Linked DNA regions of Homo sapiens: region 2 is linked to region 1. Evidence: fine-mapped expression QTL. Tissue or cell type: whole blood. Region 1 holds a variant in brackets; the other region holds the start of a gene. All regions are shown on one strand. Distances are from middle to middle.

Region 1 (8,413 bases):
TCGTTGGTTTCAGACAGACCTTCCACTGAAAATAACTATAAAAGATGGGTATAAAAACACAACAAGAATAAGTACAACCATTTGAAGGCATCAGCAAGATACCAAGGAAGCTAAGTTTCCCCAAGAGCCTGGAGTTTCAAAAGACAAAGTGAAGATCCTGTAAAAAAGAAAAACACATCAAGGTGAGCCAGGCATTCTGTGTTCAAATGTCTCTCAATGCATTTTCTGCCCCTAAGTTGTGCTGGCATGGGACTACATAATGAGAGAGAAAGAAGAAAGCAGCTGCTGAGAAGGTAGAATCTAAGTAGAAATTCTGATTTTGTGAAGTGCTACAGAGAAAAATAAATGAGTTGAGGACATGCAAAGGAGAAGCATAGCATTATTACCCTGCTTCATAGAATCCCTCATTGTTATGGTTTGAATGTTCCCTCCAAAACTCATGTTGAAATTTAATTGCCATTGTGACAGTAGTAAGAGGTGGGACCTTTAAGAGGTGATTAGGGGCCCGGGCGTGGTGGCTCACGCCTGTAATCCCAGCACTTTGGGAGACCGAGGCGGGCGGATCACCTGAGGTCAGGAGTTAGAGACCAGCCTGGCCAATATGATGAAACCCCATCTCTACTAAAAATACAAAAATTAGCCAGGTGTGGTGGTGTGTGCGTGTAATCCCAGCTACTCGGGAGGCTGAGGCAGGAGAATCGCTTGAACCTGGGAGGCGGAGGTTGCAGTGAGCTGTCATCTTGCCACTGCACTCCAGCCTGGGAGACAGAACAAGACTGTCTCAAAAAAAAAAAAAAAAAAAAAAGAGGTGATTAGGTCATGAGGCTCCTCCCTTGTGAATGGATTAATGCCTAATGTCATTATTGTAGAAGTGGGTGAGTTATCAGGAGTTCGGCCCCTTTTTCTTCTCTGTATCATGTGCTTGCTTGCCCTTTCACCCTTCCACCATGGGATAACACACAGAGATCCTCGCTGGTTGCCAGCACTGTGCTTTTGGACTTCCTAGCCTCCAGAACAGTGAGACAAATAGATCTCTTTTCTTTATACATTACCCAGTCTGAGGTATTCTGCTATAGCAACAGAAAACAGACTATGACACCCATGTTGTTTCAAAGTTATCTGTCTTTACTCTCACTGTATGTGAGCAGAACTAAAATTAAATGGAAACTTTCATCTAAGCTACAAAATCTTAGTGGTATAAAGGATTCTGTTAATCTTTTAGTTCAGTTATTCCCAAACCCCACTGATTCATGGACTCTACACAAGTCATCACCAAGTCCATGAGAGAGGCCTGGTGTAGTGAACATTTAACAAGTGCTGCCAGATGATTCTTACTTTCAGGGAAGTTTGGAGTACAGTGATCTAGGGCAATGATTCTCAGAGAACTGGAGCTTGCATAGCAACATGAATATAACTTGAGGTGCTTGTTAAAAAATAGAGGTTCTTGAGCTTCACTCTGAGTGTCTCAGTTTGTAAATTACCACAGGTGATTGTTGTGTGCAGGTAGGTGTTGACTCCAGGTCCAGCCCACCTCTCCCAGTCTCCATCCAATGATTGTCCAGCCCACTCATGACTGTTTCCAGAGAGGGGACTTCTAGGCCCCTTTCCCTGCCCATGGAGGTCACTCCTTGAATATTATTGTAAACCTTTGTCAAATATTGTCTCAACAAATTTAGGAATGTATATGCCTCTCACACCCAGTATTAAGACACAAGAATCAGACTTTTAAACTCAATTTTTTATGATATCATTCTAACAAAAGACTGTTGCCACTCATTTTGTCAGGAAAAAAAAATGCATTTTTGACTAATCTCTTGTGGACGGCCACGTTTATAGGTCCTTTTGGGGGTGAATGGAATTTGTGGATCCATCTGAAGACCACCATTTTGCTTCTCAAAGACTCCAAGTGTTAAGTGGTTGCTCTATTAGGAAAAAAACTTTTTTTTCTTCCAGAGAGGAGAATTAAAAGATATCCAGAGTCAACTTGACAGTGCAGAGCATGGGATCTATCATTCATAAACACCTCCACAGTCTCACAGAGAAGAGGAGGGAAAGGCAGCTGTCAATAAGAACATGGACCCATTTATTTGGCTCCCAAGGCAGAGGTGCAATGTAGGATTTTAACTTTTCCCGTGGATAGCTGGTGTTGACGAAGAGAAGAAACCTTACTTGAGACAATGAAGTTCAGATCATAAACATTCACAAGCATAAGGGAAAGCATGTACAATCATGATGCAATTCCCTTACACTCTGCTTCCACTGTTTGCTAATGAGCAATTTTATTTCTCTGAGCCTCACTCTCCTCATCTGTAAGATGGACTAGTCACACCTTCCTTACCATCCAGAGTAAATGGGAGAGTAAATGAAAACTGCCTAACTCATGAATGGCATTCAATCTACAGTAGATATTTTTCAGTTGTTAATAATGTCCTTACCAGGTCATTTTCAGATGCTCCTGAGTTAGAGTCAGTCAGGAATTTCTTTAATTGCTCCAAAAGGACACAGCATTGTCAGCCTCTTGGCTAGTCCATATTAATGTGATAAATTGGTCCCGGCAAGTGGGCTTCTAGCTTGTCTTCCCTCATGTCCCAGTCCTTGGTTTGTTTCCATCTCTCCATGTTTTTCTAGCTACTCCAGAAGCGAGGTCCTAACTGTTCTTGCCCTCCCCCTGTCATCCCTATCCTTCTAGATGCTTAATTCCAGACCATAAGGCTGGGCTCTGACTACCTGTTGTTGATGGTTTACTCTGCCCTCCAGGGGACCTCGAGGGTTTCTGCATGCCTTGTGTCACCCCTGAGAAGAAAGCAAACCAGTGACCAACACGTTCAGAGAGTGGAACTTCCCATGGAAGGGCAAAGCGTTGACTATTTCTGCTTTCTCAGAATGTTTTTTTGGGAATCTCCGCTTTTGGTCCCTGGTCTTTTGAGATATCTCTTAGGTCATTCTCTCTTTATTGGGTTGTTTTTCTTTCTTCTCTCCCAAGAAAGAGTGCAGAAAGTGGACCCAGCATTTCCCCAAACTGGAGACATTCCCTTAAACCCAGAAAGCCTTCAAAGAACCAAGATGAGGTACAGGAGAGAAAAGATACAGAGCATGAAACACACCAGCACCGAAAGTCTGGCTTCTTTAAAACTCCACTCCCTCTGGCTCTTCCTTGGACCCATGATCTGTGTTTCCTTGCTGGAGATCTAATAACTCTCCTGGGAACACCCCTGACTCTGACTGCCTGCCTAGATTTATAACTTTTACTTGCTCTAGGGGCTCCCTACCTTAACCACCCCTCTTCTGATGTCTATATACCACAGCTGGTCCTTCTAGATTTGAAAGCTCCCAACACTAGCATTAGAGAGAGAAATGTTGGTTTTGCCGTATGTCCCAGCCATAATCAATAGCTTCTCACTAACATGAGAAGTTATGTGCTCACTTGTATCTGGCTCTGCTTATGATGGGGAAGAATTCAATGGGCTTAGAGGATGAAGTCTATAATTCTATTCCCCAAACCACTTTACTAGAGAATTCTAGGCTGTTTAAAATCTCCACTGAATATTCTTGAAGAGAGGGAGAAAAAGAAGAAGGAAAACCCTTATCTGCTCTGATTTTGCATCCTGGAGTCTGACTCACCCCTGCAATGCACTAAAGTCAGGCAACAAAGAGAATCCTTTAGCGAATCCCTTGAATCATCTGTTCTAACACCAACCAGCTCCTGACCTCAGTGTTGGGCCCCATTCCCTGCCCCTTGATCTGGTATATGAATGTGATTTGCTTAGTCACAGTGTCTAGCCTCCTCCAAGGACTTGGGTTTGTGCTACCTGTGGGTTCTTCTCCTGCTAGACTTTTTTTTTTTTTAGCTTTAAAAACATTGTTCCAATTATGATGAAATATATGTAACAGAAAATGTAACATTTCAGCCATTTTAAATGTAGAGTTTAGTGGCATTAAGTACACTCACATTGTTGTGCAACCATAACCAACATATCTCTAAAACATTTTCATCTTCCCCAAACTCTGTATAACCATTAAGCAATAACTCTCTGTTCCCCTTTGCCCCCAAGCCCCTGGAAACCACCATTCTACTTTGTGTCCTTATGAATTTGAATGCTGTAAGTACTTCATGTTAGTGGAATCATACACGATGTAGTCTTTTATGTCTGGCTACTTTCACTTGGCATAATGTCATCAAGGTCCAGCCATGTTATAACAGATGTCAGCATTTTATTCCTTCTTATAGCTGAATTATATTCCATTGTATGGATATGCCACATTTTGCTTTTTTATTCGTGCATCAATGAACACTTGATTTGCTTGTACCTTTTGGCTAAGGTAAATAATGCTGCAATGAACATCGTTATATAAATATCTCTTCAAGATCTTCCTTTCAATTCTTTCAATTCTGGTATATCCCAGAGTGGAATTACTGGATCATATGGTAATTCTATTTTTATTTTTTAGAAGTTCCACCGTATTGTTTTCCATTATAGCTGCACCATTTTACATTCCCACCAACAGTGTCCAAGGGTTCCAATCTCTCCACATGCTTGCCCACATCTGTTATTTTCTGTGTGTGTGTTCTTTTTTAATAGTAGCCATCCTAGTAAGTATGAAGTGGTATTTCACCATCATTTTGCTGCGCTTCTTGACTAGCTCACCCACTATCAGCCCTTCTTGACTACCCAGCCCTAGGAGGCAGCCTGCCATGCTAAAGTCTTGTCTGGACCTATAGCAGGAGGACAGTAGTTCTTAGAACTCATAATAGCTCCCTGATACTGTCATTTGTTGAGCCAAATTGTTTCTTAAATCTAAGATATATAATATTTCACATGCACAGTTAAGGCACAGACCT[G/C]TGAGGAGGGAGTGGTCAAACAAGATGACTTACCGAGTGTTAGATATCTGTGAATGAGCACCATCTCCAGTTCTCCATTGCAAACTAAAGAAGCCCTCTCTCAGGAGGTTATGCAGCTGTAGGGCTCTTTATGTTACATGTAGCATGTCAGTAGAATAACCATAACGATGGGATAGAAAAATAGTGAGTAAATGAAAAAGGTAGACTGGCAGACTGGGGTTCATGTTGGCAGAGAGATGACAGGGACCGAGAATGAAAACAGAAACCACAATTTTCAAAACATAAGCCTCAGTTTCGAAGCAGGCCAATTTCTCCCGACCACACCGTGGTGGGCATCACAGACGATCTAAGTTCAAACCTTGAAACACCAGCTCTTTCAGGCCCATTTGTTCCCAGATAAGACCATAGAGAAATTGACCTGTCAGTAACTCCACACAGACTTGTGAATCCCAAAGATAAGACCACTTACTTTTCCAGAAACTCCCCAGTTTACAGAATCTGATGAAATCCTGCCAACACCATCCTGTGACTAACTCCAGCCCCCAAAGCTTTATTGGGTGCCCTTGTCTTAATCCACCCTTTTGAGATGCCTCAAGCTTCCCCACAGCGTGCAGTTTCCCTTGCTGTGGCGTTAATCAGCCTAACTTTGTTGACTACAGGTGTGTTCCAGGTGGTCTTAGGCTACAGGACATTGAAGAACATTAAATTACATGCAATGCCTAAAGCTAGTTCTCTGCAACTCCATGACTCTGGAAATGACCAAAGCCTCTCTTTCTGGCCACCTCTCAATTTTCCCCCAGCTCTCACCTTCTCTATCCTCTTTCTCCAAGCTCCTGAAATGCCACACTGGACACCCGGTACTTGTACTTTTATTTATGCAGGCTTCTTACAAAAATGAATAATTAACGTCATGAGAAAATTCTCAGGCTGACCTGAGAATAAAGCAATCAAGACCACATTAAAATTATATCTTTTTTTCCAAGACTCATTAAGGAGCTGTGAGAAAATCAGTACACCAACCTGTTGTGAAACCCCAATGTAATGTTTAACTAATTTTCTGCCTTTGAGCAATATCCCCACTATTAGCTTTCTTTTTTCCTTACTGGCAGTTTTACTTAATTTCTTTAAGGTGACATAATGAAAGAGTGAAAAAATGTACCCTGTGGTTCTGCAGCCACCCCCTACAGCTCCACTTTCTGACTCATGGCCAGGAGAGTGCTGGCTCTGTTTTTCCAAGTCCAAGGGGGAGGAGGGTACCTCTTCTGTCCACCCCTACTGCTTCCCGAAATCACTCTCTCTTCTTTCTGGACTTTCCTTAATTTACTGGGGAGAGTGACTGATCCTTCCTGGCAGCCTAGGGTGAAGCCTAGACCCCTTATTCGTACCTCCCCGCTTCTCTCCCATCCACAATGTTGTTTTGAAAGCTGTTTTGTTCCCTTGTCCTCCCTTGCTCCTGGTGGAATTGATGGGTGTACAGGAGGCAAACCAGTCCCTTCATGGCAAATTTCAACTGAGACAGAGAGAAACTTGGCCCTGCAACACGTAAGCTCAGGAGCTGTTGGCCTTCCCAACAAAAAACGAGGCAAGACAGTCCAAAGCCAAAGGGAGGATGAAGTAGAGGCTCAGAGGAAAGTAGAAATGACACCCTTCCTGGGCTCTTTACTGTGTCCCCCGGTCCAGTCCTGTGCCTTCCCTAGGTCCTGCAGTCTCTGTTCTCTGATTCCATGAGCCTCTGCAGTGCCCCATCCATTGCATTTGCTCAAGTTGGCTCCCATGGCTTTCTGTAACTTACAACCAGAAGAGCCTGAGAAAGGCGCCAGGCTTCTGTAGCTCAGTTTCATGACCCAGGAGAGCCTCACTCCCTATAAAAGGTGAGCGTGTTCCCTGGTCCCACTAACTGCACCAACCCCCTTGGGAAGCCGTCCCTACTCCCTAAACTAGCCTCTCTTGGCTCTGTGCTCCCTGCCTCTCCTGTCAGGCTTCTGCCATGGCCCTTAGCCCTTCAGCCTGAGGTCACTCACAAGCCTGACTAAGAGATCCCACTGGCAGGCAAGGGCTGGGTCACCCCCACTCCGGACCGCTCCATCCTTATCATTGTTGCCACGTGTACTGGGCTGCACACGCTGCCAGCTTGCTTGCTCAGTTTCATAAGAGGTTGCTTCCTTATTAGGAATTTTCTGTTCTTCCTGTGCATGATGTGCAGGGCAGTTACACTTCAAACTCACCAGTTAGTAATACCTCTGTTTCTGTGGGTTGGAGTCTGCTTTTGGGGGTGGCCAGGCTGCTTGTGCATCAATGCTTGATCTTCCAGATCTCCCTACCCCTTCCTTTTCAAGATGACCTCTGGGTGTGGGGAAATCGGGGAGTCCAGGGAAGTGAGGAGGAATGGACTCTAACTCTACGTATTTGATTCCGTAGTCCTTTGGTGTCCTGGAAAGGACTACATGTGGATGGCCCCTATACCATGCTGACCTCTGGAGCTGAAATCTGTAGCTGGCGCATTTGCAGTTGATCTCTGGGCTCCATCTCAGCCCCGTAACCCTCCCCAAAGTTTTGGCCCCAACCAGGTCCTTGCTGCAGCCCTGACCAGGGTACTGTGCCCTCCCCCCATAGGTATGGGATCTCTTTGCCCCTGGAATAGCAGACCTCATCAGCCACATCCTCAATAACTTCTGCTTCTTCTACAGGCTGCGTATAAGGCTTGGGAATGCTAACCCAGGCTCCCTGCTACATCTGCTGTACCACACTGTCTACTCTGCTGCAGACACCCCTCCCAGGGTCCCAAACTCCACAGTTTTTTTTTTTTTTTTGAGATGGAGTCTCGCTCTGTCACCTAGGGCACCCCACCCTGGGTCCCAAACACCACACTTTTCACTCTGCTGCAGGCACCACTCTCAGGATCCCAAACAGGAAATCCCTCTGCTCCTGGCTACCCTCTCAATCCTTCTAACACCTGGGAGCTTTGGTTTGGGGCTGAAAGGTGGAGTCATATATTTCTGACTGTGTGTTCACCTGTCTCTGATCCTCTTCTCTTCCCCCACTTTGCTGCCTCTAAATGGACAAGCTTCCCTCTCCCATTTTGTTTGACCTGAAACCCTCTTAGGTCATTCCCTTCCCCTTACCTAGGCCAGTGCATCTTCAGGCCTAGGTGCCCAAGGCAAAGCCTCTATGGAAGGAATTATGTGCTGAATCCAGTTTCAATCAACGTGAAAGCTGCAGAACAATTAAGAGTAGGGACCGGCCAGGTGCCATGGCTCATGTCTGTAATCCCAGCACTTTGGGAGACCAAGGCAGGTGGATCACCTGAGGTCAGGAGTTAGAGACCAGCCTGGCCAATATGATGAAACCCCGTCTCTGTTGAAAATACAAAAATTAGCCAGGCATGGTGGCGCGCGTGTGTAATCCCAGCTACTCAGGAGGCTGAGGCAGGAGAATTGCTTGAACCCAGGAGGCAGAGGTTGCAGTGAGCCAAGATTGTGCCATTGCACTCCAGCCTGGGCAACAAGAGCGAAACTCCATCTCGAAAAAAACAAAAACAAACAAACAAAAGAGTAGGGACCACCAAAAGTGAAA
Region 2 (8,264 bases), 24 kb after region 1:
GGATATCCATATGCTCAAAAGTAGAACTAGACCCCAATGTCTCACCATATACAAAAATCAACTCAAAACAGATGAAAGACTTAAGTGCAAGACCTGAAAAACTATAAAACTAGTAGAAGGAAAAGGTGGGAAAATGCTTCAGGACATTGGTTTGGGCAAAGACTCTTTGGGTAAGAACTCAAAAGCATAGGCAATAAAAGCAAAAATAGACAAATGAGACTACATCAAGCTAAAAACTTTTTGCATAGCAAAGGAAACAATCAACAGAGTGAAGAGACAATCTGCAGAATGGGAGAAAATATTTGTAAACTACCTACCTGACAAGGAATTAATAGCCAGAATATACAAGGAGCTCAAACAACAGCAAAAAACCTGATTAGAAAATGGGCAAAGGATCTGAATAGATATTTCTCAAAAGAAGACATTCAAATGGCCAACAGGTATATTTAAAAATGCTCAGCATCATGAATCATGAGGGAAATGCAAATCAAAGTCACCCTGAAATATCATCTCACCCCAATTAAAATGGCTATCATCAAAAAGACAAAAATAACTGATGCTGGTAAGGATGCTTTGAAAGGGCACTACTAGCACACTGTTGGTGGGATTATAAATGGTACAGCCCACTATAGAAAACAGTATGGAGCTTCCTCAAACAACTAAAAATAGATCTAATATATAATCTATCAATCCCACTGCTGGTTATGTATTCAAAAGAAAATCAGTATGTTGGAAAGGTATACTGACATACTTTGTAGTATAAACCCATGTTTATTGCAGCACTAGCCACAGCAGTCAAGGTATGAAATCAACTTAAGTGTCCATCAACAGATAAATGGATAAAGAAAATGTGGTACATGTACACAATGGAATACCATCTGGCCATTAAGAAGAATGAAATCCTGTCATTTGCATCGACATGGATGAAACTGGAGGTTATTATGTTAAGTGAAATAAGCCAGGCACAGCAAGACAAATACTGCATGTTCTCACTCACTTGTGGAAACTAAAGAAGGTGATCTCAAGGAGGTAGAGAATAGAACGATAGATACCAGAGACTTGGAAGGGTGGGAAAGGGTGAATAAAGAGAGATTGATTAATGGCTACAGAAATACAGTTAGATGGAATAAGTCCTGGTGTTGAATAGCACAGTAGGGTGACTTTGGTTAACAACAATTCATTGTATATTTCAAAATAGCTGGAAAAGAGAATTTTAAATGTTTCCAAGACAAAGAAATGATACATATTTGAGATGACGGATATCCTAATTACCCTAATTTGATCATTACACATTGCATGCACGTATTGAAATGTCACATGTACACCAGAAATATGTACAGTTATTATGTAGCAATTTTTAAAATCTTGATTTAAAAAACTTCCCCCAAAATTTCAATGCTACTTGAGAAGAATAATGTGAATTCATTGTCAGCTTCACATTCATCTAACAGTTAATATTATGTTTTTAAATTCATGTTGTCTCTCTAATTCTCACAATTTTCTTAAATATTGACATTATATGCCCTATTCTATAGTAAAATAAACTGGTATTCTGAAAGGTGGAGCAGCTTACCCAGGGCACACAGCTACTAGGAGGGGAGCCCATGACACAGGCCCCCCATCCTAGCCCAGAGCTCTTTTAATGAGCCCCCATGCATCCTCAGCATGGGTTAATTTACCCTGTCCTTAGCAGACAGCAGAACAGAATAGAATGAGGCTAGCGTTAATAAGCTCTGACTGAGGAGGAGGGGAGCAGCAGAGGGCCTGGTTTTGGTAGATGGGAACTGAGGACTGCTGTACACAGTCCTGGGCAGCCAGGAGTAACAGGGCAGCATGGACCTGGGCCTTAGAGAGAGGAGAAAGTCTAAGACGAGACACGTGTTGGTGACAGTGCCAGCTTTTACAGGATCTCCCATCACCCACCTCTTTTTTTTTTTTTTTTTTTTCTGATTAAGGAACTTGCTGTGGATGAGGTGGTTGAGGCCAATGTGGTCAAAAAATATTCAGGAAGCATATTCATACTGAACAAGCAGACCACAGGTGCAACACTTGGGGATCACAAAGCCTTAGCCTTCCATGGCACAGGGGAAAGCAGTGGTTTGAATCAGAGCTGTTTGAGTGAAATCAGTAACAAAGTGCTTCAGGGAAGAAATCTCATTTTCAAGAGCAGATTTCGAGATGATTCAAAATTGGAACATCTGACAGTGGGGTCCTGCAGGAACATTCTCCAGGGCCTGACTAGTTGTTCTAAACCACAGGTAGGTCCAGGGCCTTTTGGCAAGCTGTGCAAAGATCCCAAGTCATTTGCACTCAGTACTTGATGAGCAAAGGCAGCCCTGTCAGGGGCAATGATACCAGCCAGTGTGAAGGACAACTGTGCAAATGGGAGGGTCCACTCCATCCTGGTGACGGAGAGGGATGTTTTGTTCAGTGGTCTGTGCACACGTGCACTTTGTTCCAGCTTCTGCTGGCGAAATCACTTTCTGATTTCTGCATTCTTCCTTTGATCATGCCCAGTAAGAACTCACCCTCCAAGCATGAAAAATCCTTCCATTACTGAAAACCTATGTGTCAGGTTTTACCATGATATATTCCTACGAAGTAGATAGTCTCACCTCCCTTTTCTAGCTGAGGACTGTCACCTCTGGAAACAGGAAGGGGCTTGCTCAATACTGCACAGCTAAGTCAGCGACTCCCACTGTGACCAGCCCCGAAGCCTGAGCACACTAGAGAGTTTCAGAGCCGACCATCCCTGGGATGGTTGTGAATGGCACTGCCTGGCCCACATACATGCGATGAAGGGCACAAAACTTGCATTTCCGGCATACCAAGAAATCCCTCTCACTCTAAGAGTTTCCAGACCTGCTCGCAGCTATACATTGAGACCAGGAGAGCCTCAAGAGGCCCAAAGCCTGTGTCAAATGCTCTTCCAGAAGCCCTCAGGAGAGTCCTCACCCATTTATGGATTAGACAAACTAGACCACACACTCCTGGAGTGCTGTAGCACAGCTGGAAGGTATTCAATAAATCCTCCCTTTTCCTGTCCTCACCATTTCCCATGTATGACATGATGGCCTACAACTACCATGGGCGTCTTGGAATTCTCTTGAAGCTGGTCTGGGGTGCAGGTTTCATCACACTCCTGCTAGAGTCATAGACAGATGCACTAAGCACTTACTTCTTGCCAGCCATGCTGCTTTGTTGTTTGGATACATCATGTATTCGAGTGCTTCCAGCAGCGCATTGGAGCGGATATTACCATTATCCCAATAGAAATGAGCTACTTGGGAGGCTGAGGTGGGAAGATCACTTGAACCCAGGAGGTCAACACTGCAGTGAGCTGTGATCACACCACTGCACTCCAGCCTGGATGAAAAAGCAAGGCCCTGTCTCAAAAAACAAACAAACAACAACAACAACAACAAAAACAAGACACTGAAGGGGGGAAAGTTACATCACTGGTCTAATATATTACTCAGAATAAACAGTAGACATGAGACGTAAGCATGAGCCTTTCTGTCTTCACAATCTGAGTTCCTAATCAATCAGTCCTTTATTTAGCCTCCCTTGGAAGTCTCTGGAACTTCTCTAGGCCTCACCCCTGTGGTGGTCCTAGTGACCCCAGAGCTCCCCTTAGTCACAGAGTGAAGAACTGAAGCAGCAGCACCTTAGAGTCAGAGGAAGTCACAGGCCCATGGACGCCTAACGATATCCTCAGTATTGGGCTGGAAGTGTAATTAGGGAAACACTCTGACTTGTGCTATCTCTGCAGCAGGTTTGGGAATTGTAGCCCCATCGGTGCTTGTAAGACTAATGACTGCACAAGAAATCTTCCAACCATAAAAACTGGTATTTCCTACATCCTGGAAAGGATGCTACTCTAAAACTTTGCCTGCTACTCCAAATGCTATTTTTTTTAATTGCTAACAATTTAGATAGCTTCTATAATATTTCAAAATTTGTAATAAGCTCCCTCAGAGCCTAAGCAGAGAGAAACAGAATCTCATGACCTCCTACACTTACCTAGACTGTGGTACTTTGGCCCTGTCCTCTTATCTTGACTGAGAATGGCATATGATTTTGTTTTATCTTATTTTAGAGAGAAACATTTAGATTATATGTCTTTTATCTATGATCTGGTTCCGATTTTTTTTTTCCCTCAGAAAGACAGTGTTCAGTTCTATTCTTCAGAGCAGAAAATCAGTCTCTTAACAAATCATCCACAAAATGCACTTCGAAATTCTGGAGAAAAAAAAGATGCATTGTGCACAGCCTAGCAACTGTGAATTGATTAATTCTAACCCATGTTTTTTCTCATTAGGTCTAAAATCCCACCATGCTAACTGCCCATTATTTTCTGTACTGTTTATTTTCTGCACACCAAATAAAAGGCCTTGACCCTTCAAGGAATAACCCAATTTCTCCAGAGGAAAGATATTATTTGACCAGAATATCCTTTTACAACAAAATAAGGATCACAACCTTACCATATAAAGCTGTTGAAAACAAGACTAAGTAAGTTCTGAATGTAACCAATTAGAATTTCTACAATATGTGGGTGCTGCTGATCAAATTGTTAAAGGGTTGTGTGCTTGTGGATTAGTTTTTTTTTTCTTTTTTCTTCTCAGTTTTGGCTTTAGTATCGTTTTGTTTTGTTTTGCAAGAATGAAAGGGGAAGGGCCTCCTAACCAACCCAACAGATCAGTTCCGGCAAGCCTCGAGGCTCACGGGGTTTATGCACACTAACTTCACTGAGCCAGGGAGCACGGAAGTTGTGCCACTGTGCAACTTGGGTTTTCTTTATCCTGCAGTCTTTACCTCAGCAGAACCGCACACCACAGACTCCCTCCAGCTCTTTGTGTGTGGCTCTCTCAGGGTCCAACAAGAGCAAGCTGTGGGTCTGTGAGTGTTTATGTGTGCTTTTATTCACTTCACACTTATTGAAAAGTGTGTATGTGAGAGGGTGGGGTGTGTGTGTCAAAGAGAGTGAGGAAGAGAAGGAGAGAGAGATCAATTGATTCTGCAGCCTCAGCTCCAGCATCCCTCAGTTGGGAGCTTCCAAAGCCGGGTGATCACTTGGGGTGCATAGCTCGGAGATGCAGTCCCCCTGGAAAATCCTTACGGTGGCGCCTCTATTCTTGCTCCTGTCTCTTCAGTCCTCGGCCTCTCCAGCCAACGATGACCAGTCCAGGCCCAGCCTCTCGAATGGGCACACCTGTGTAGGTATGCAAATAAATATTTTTGTATTTTCTATGTAGACATAACAATGGGATCCAGTACTTTGCTTGCGTAATAAATCACATATTTTATTAAATCAAGAATTGTAAGATTCCAGGTAAGGCACCAGTAACCTCACTGACACAGAGAAATGTGGAGTCTAAGAGTAGACATTGACACTACATACATCTATGTGAATAAAAAGCATACTAGTTTAAATTGGGCATAAAACTCTTCCACCTCATTGGCGATTGGAATTTTTTCTTCTTGTATAGGTAACTATTATTTCAGGCTATTTTAGTCTGAAATTTTTACTGCTTTTCATGGGCTTTGACCTCATATAAACACATCTGAGTTTGAATCACTGCCCTCCTCCTACCCTTCTCTCCCATTTCCTACTGGCTGTGGAAACCTGGAGCAATGTACTTAACCCTCTCCATGCTTCTGTGTCCTTATTGGTGAACTGAAGTGAGTGAGACCCATCTCATAGGGATACCATGGAAATTGTGACCATGCATGTAAATCTGTGGCATGTGCACACAGTAAGGACTCAACCATCTTAGCTTCCTTCCGTCTCTCAGAGAATCCAGATTTGGCGATCACCTGGAGACGCTGAGCGTTGATATGGCTTCTTGGCTCATCTGTTAATGAAGTGTTTTATTTCCAAGAGGTTTTTTTTGTTTGTTTTTTTTGGATGAGAGCAGGAAGTAAGGTAAGATCTTTGATATTCACATTGTAGCTCTCATAACATGGGAATTCTCATAATAGTGGTGGCATTTAGATGGTACAGTCCATGGAGCCACATAGACTCAGAACTCTGAGTAGTAAGTAATTGTTCAATGAGCAGACCTCAAAATACAATCCTAGCTTGAGAAGCCAGGAAAATAACTCTAGGATAAGTCTGATGGCTACATGCTGCAAATGGAAAATCTGGACACAGATTCTGACACTTAGGAATTGTTTCTGGAGACAATATGGAAATATATCTGAATTTGTCCTACTTCCTCAAAATCATGGCCTCAGGTCATTGTACATGTTAGGAGATGCATCTCTACTTCCAAAGTCCTTTTTTTTTTTTTTTTTTTTTTTTTTCTGAGATGGATTATCGCACTGTCACCTGGGCTGGAGTACAATGGTGCAGTCTCAGCTCACTGCAACCTCTGCCTCCCTGGTTCACACAATTCTCCTGCCTCAGCCTTCGGAGTAGCTGGGATTACAGATGCACACCACCACACCCAGCTAATTTTTTGTATTTTTAGTAGAGATGGGGTTTCCCTATGTTGGCCACACTGGTCTCGAACTCCTGACCTCGTGATCCGCCCCCCTTGGCTCCCAAAGTGCTGGGATTACAGGCATGAGCCACCGCGCCCAGCCTCCAAAGTCTTGTTTTAATTAAGACCCAGATTCCCCAAGACTATTTTCCAGAGACCTGAAGGCAGAGGTGTGTGGTCCTTTGAACCATGCCTGGGAGATCATCCTCCCCCAGTATTTGGTTTCCTTAAATAACTATTTGCCACCTTTTCATTTTTCTCAAAACAAAACCCTACTGCCCATCAAATGGAAATACACTTGAGAAAAGCTCAGATGAAATCAGTTTTACTTCTGGGCTCATTGCAAACTAAATGTTTGAGTTTGGGCAAGTTGTCAGGGCTGAGATCCTTGGACCTTCACTTCAGTAAAATGGACAGGAGGTACACATTCCTTTCTCTGCCCTGTTCCCAGTGAGGTCATAGAGGGTAAGAAGGAGGTGTTGGGGAGATTTCAGGATGGGGTTGCTCTGGTTTTTCTATTATTGCTGCATCAAAAATTACAATAATAACCATTTGTTGTATTATGATTTTATGGGTGAAAAATTTGTTCGAACACTGGCTGGTGATTCTTCTTCTCCATGTAGGAGTGACCGAGGTTAGGAGGTGGTATTCGGATGGTGGATTGATGGATCTGGGACTGACAAAAACAGCTTCACTCACATATTTGGCACCTTAGGGGTGAGGGAATGGCTAGAGGGTTGGCTCATCTGGGAGTGCCATCAGAGTGCCCACACATGGCTATCTTGGGTAGTAGGCTTTCTTACCTGGCAGCTTAGGAATCCCAGAGAGAATTCCAAAAGACAGGAATTAGAAGCTGCCAATCTTTCAAGTTTTGGGTCTGGAAACAGGCACAGCATTACTTGCCATCTTCCATTGCTCAAAGCATTCACAAGTTCCTCCACCCAGACTCAAAGGGAGGGGGCAGAGACCCTTCATTTTGATGGAGAGGGTCAAGAAATGTGTGGTCATCTCTATCATTCACAGAGGTTCACTTTGGTTGCCCATACAAATTCTCATGGCCCCAAGGGCTTGGAGACTCTGTTGCTGATTAGGTTTGAGGATGATTTAGCATCCATTTTCCCAGCAACTCCCAACTTCTTCTGGTTAACTCTGCCTGGGTGACTTATTCACCTGTTGTCATAATAGCAAGAAAGGTGGGTGCAAGAGGAGTCCAGTCTTGTGATGAACACTTACTGAGCACTGCCTATGTGCTGAGACAGGGGCTGAAGGTGGTCCAACTTGGTGCTTCACTGATTGAAGTTGGCTTTTGGGGGAGACAGGATTAGAAATGTGTGTGCAGGGGAGTTTATTGAGAAGTGCTCTTGGCAAAAAGACGAGCAAGAGAGGAAGGCAGTGGGGTTGGCAGAGAGAAGCCGGGCTGTGCTGCAGCCATAAAAGAAGTCCCACTGAGAGCTCTGGGACTAAAATAGCTCTTCAGAGTTGTCCTGAAGTAGGTGCAGGTCTTGGAATTCCCACATCAAACAGTCCCTCGATGTGACCTGACCACAGGGGAGGGCTGTAATTTTGAGACATCTCCCGTTGGTGGAGACAGTTCTGGCAAGGGACTCTGATGCTGGCATAATCCTTCAGACCAATGGCTCCAGAAGCTGGGGAGCGAGTGTCTCCTGATACGGGATCCTGGGGTGTACCTGCTGGAAGGGTTGTATGTGGGAAGCATCTCAGGAAGCAGTGAGGTCCGCTCTCTCGCAGCTGGTGGGAAGAGGAAGAAGTGTGTGG

The links. PIP is the estimated chance that this variant, and not a neighbour inherited with it, causes the effect.
Region 2: AOAH starts here. The variant in region 1 is fine-mapped to the expression of AOAH in whole blood (INTERVAL, PIP above 0.99).

What each region holds. Positions count from the first base shown.
Region 1 is chr7:36,745,069-36,753,481 of GRCh38, reverse strand. No RefSeq gene overlaps it. Among named protein-coding and RNA genes, the nearest start is that of AOAH, 25 kb to the right of the region's middle. The variant G/C (reference allele first, on the strand shown) is at 4,841.
Region 2 is chr7:36,720,981-36,729,244 of GRCh38, reverse strand. AOAH (acyloxyacyl hydrolase) reads left to right here and starts at 4,751. Exons shown (of 21, transcript NM_001637.4): 1 at 4,751-5,223. The coding sequence starts at 5,097.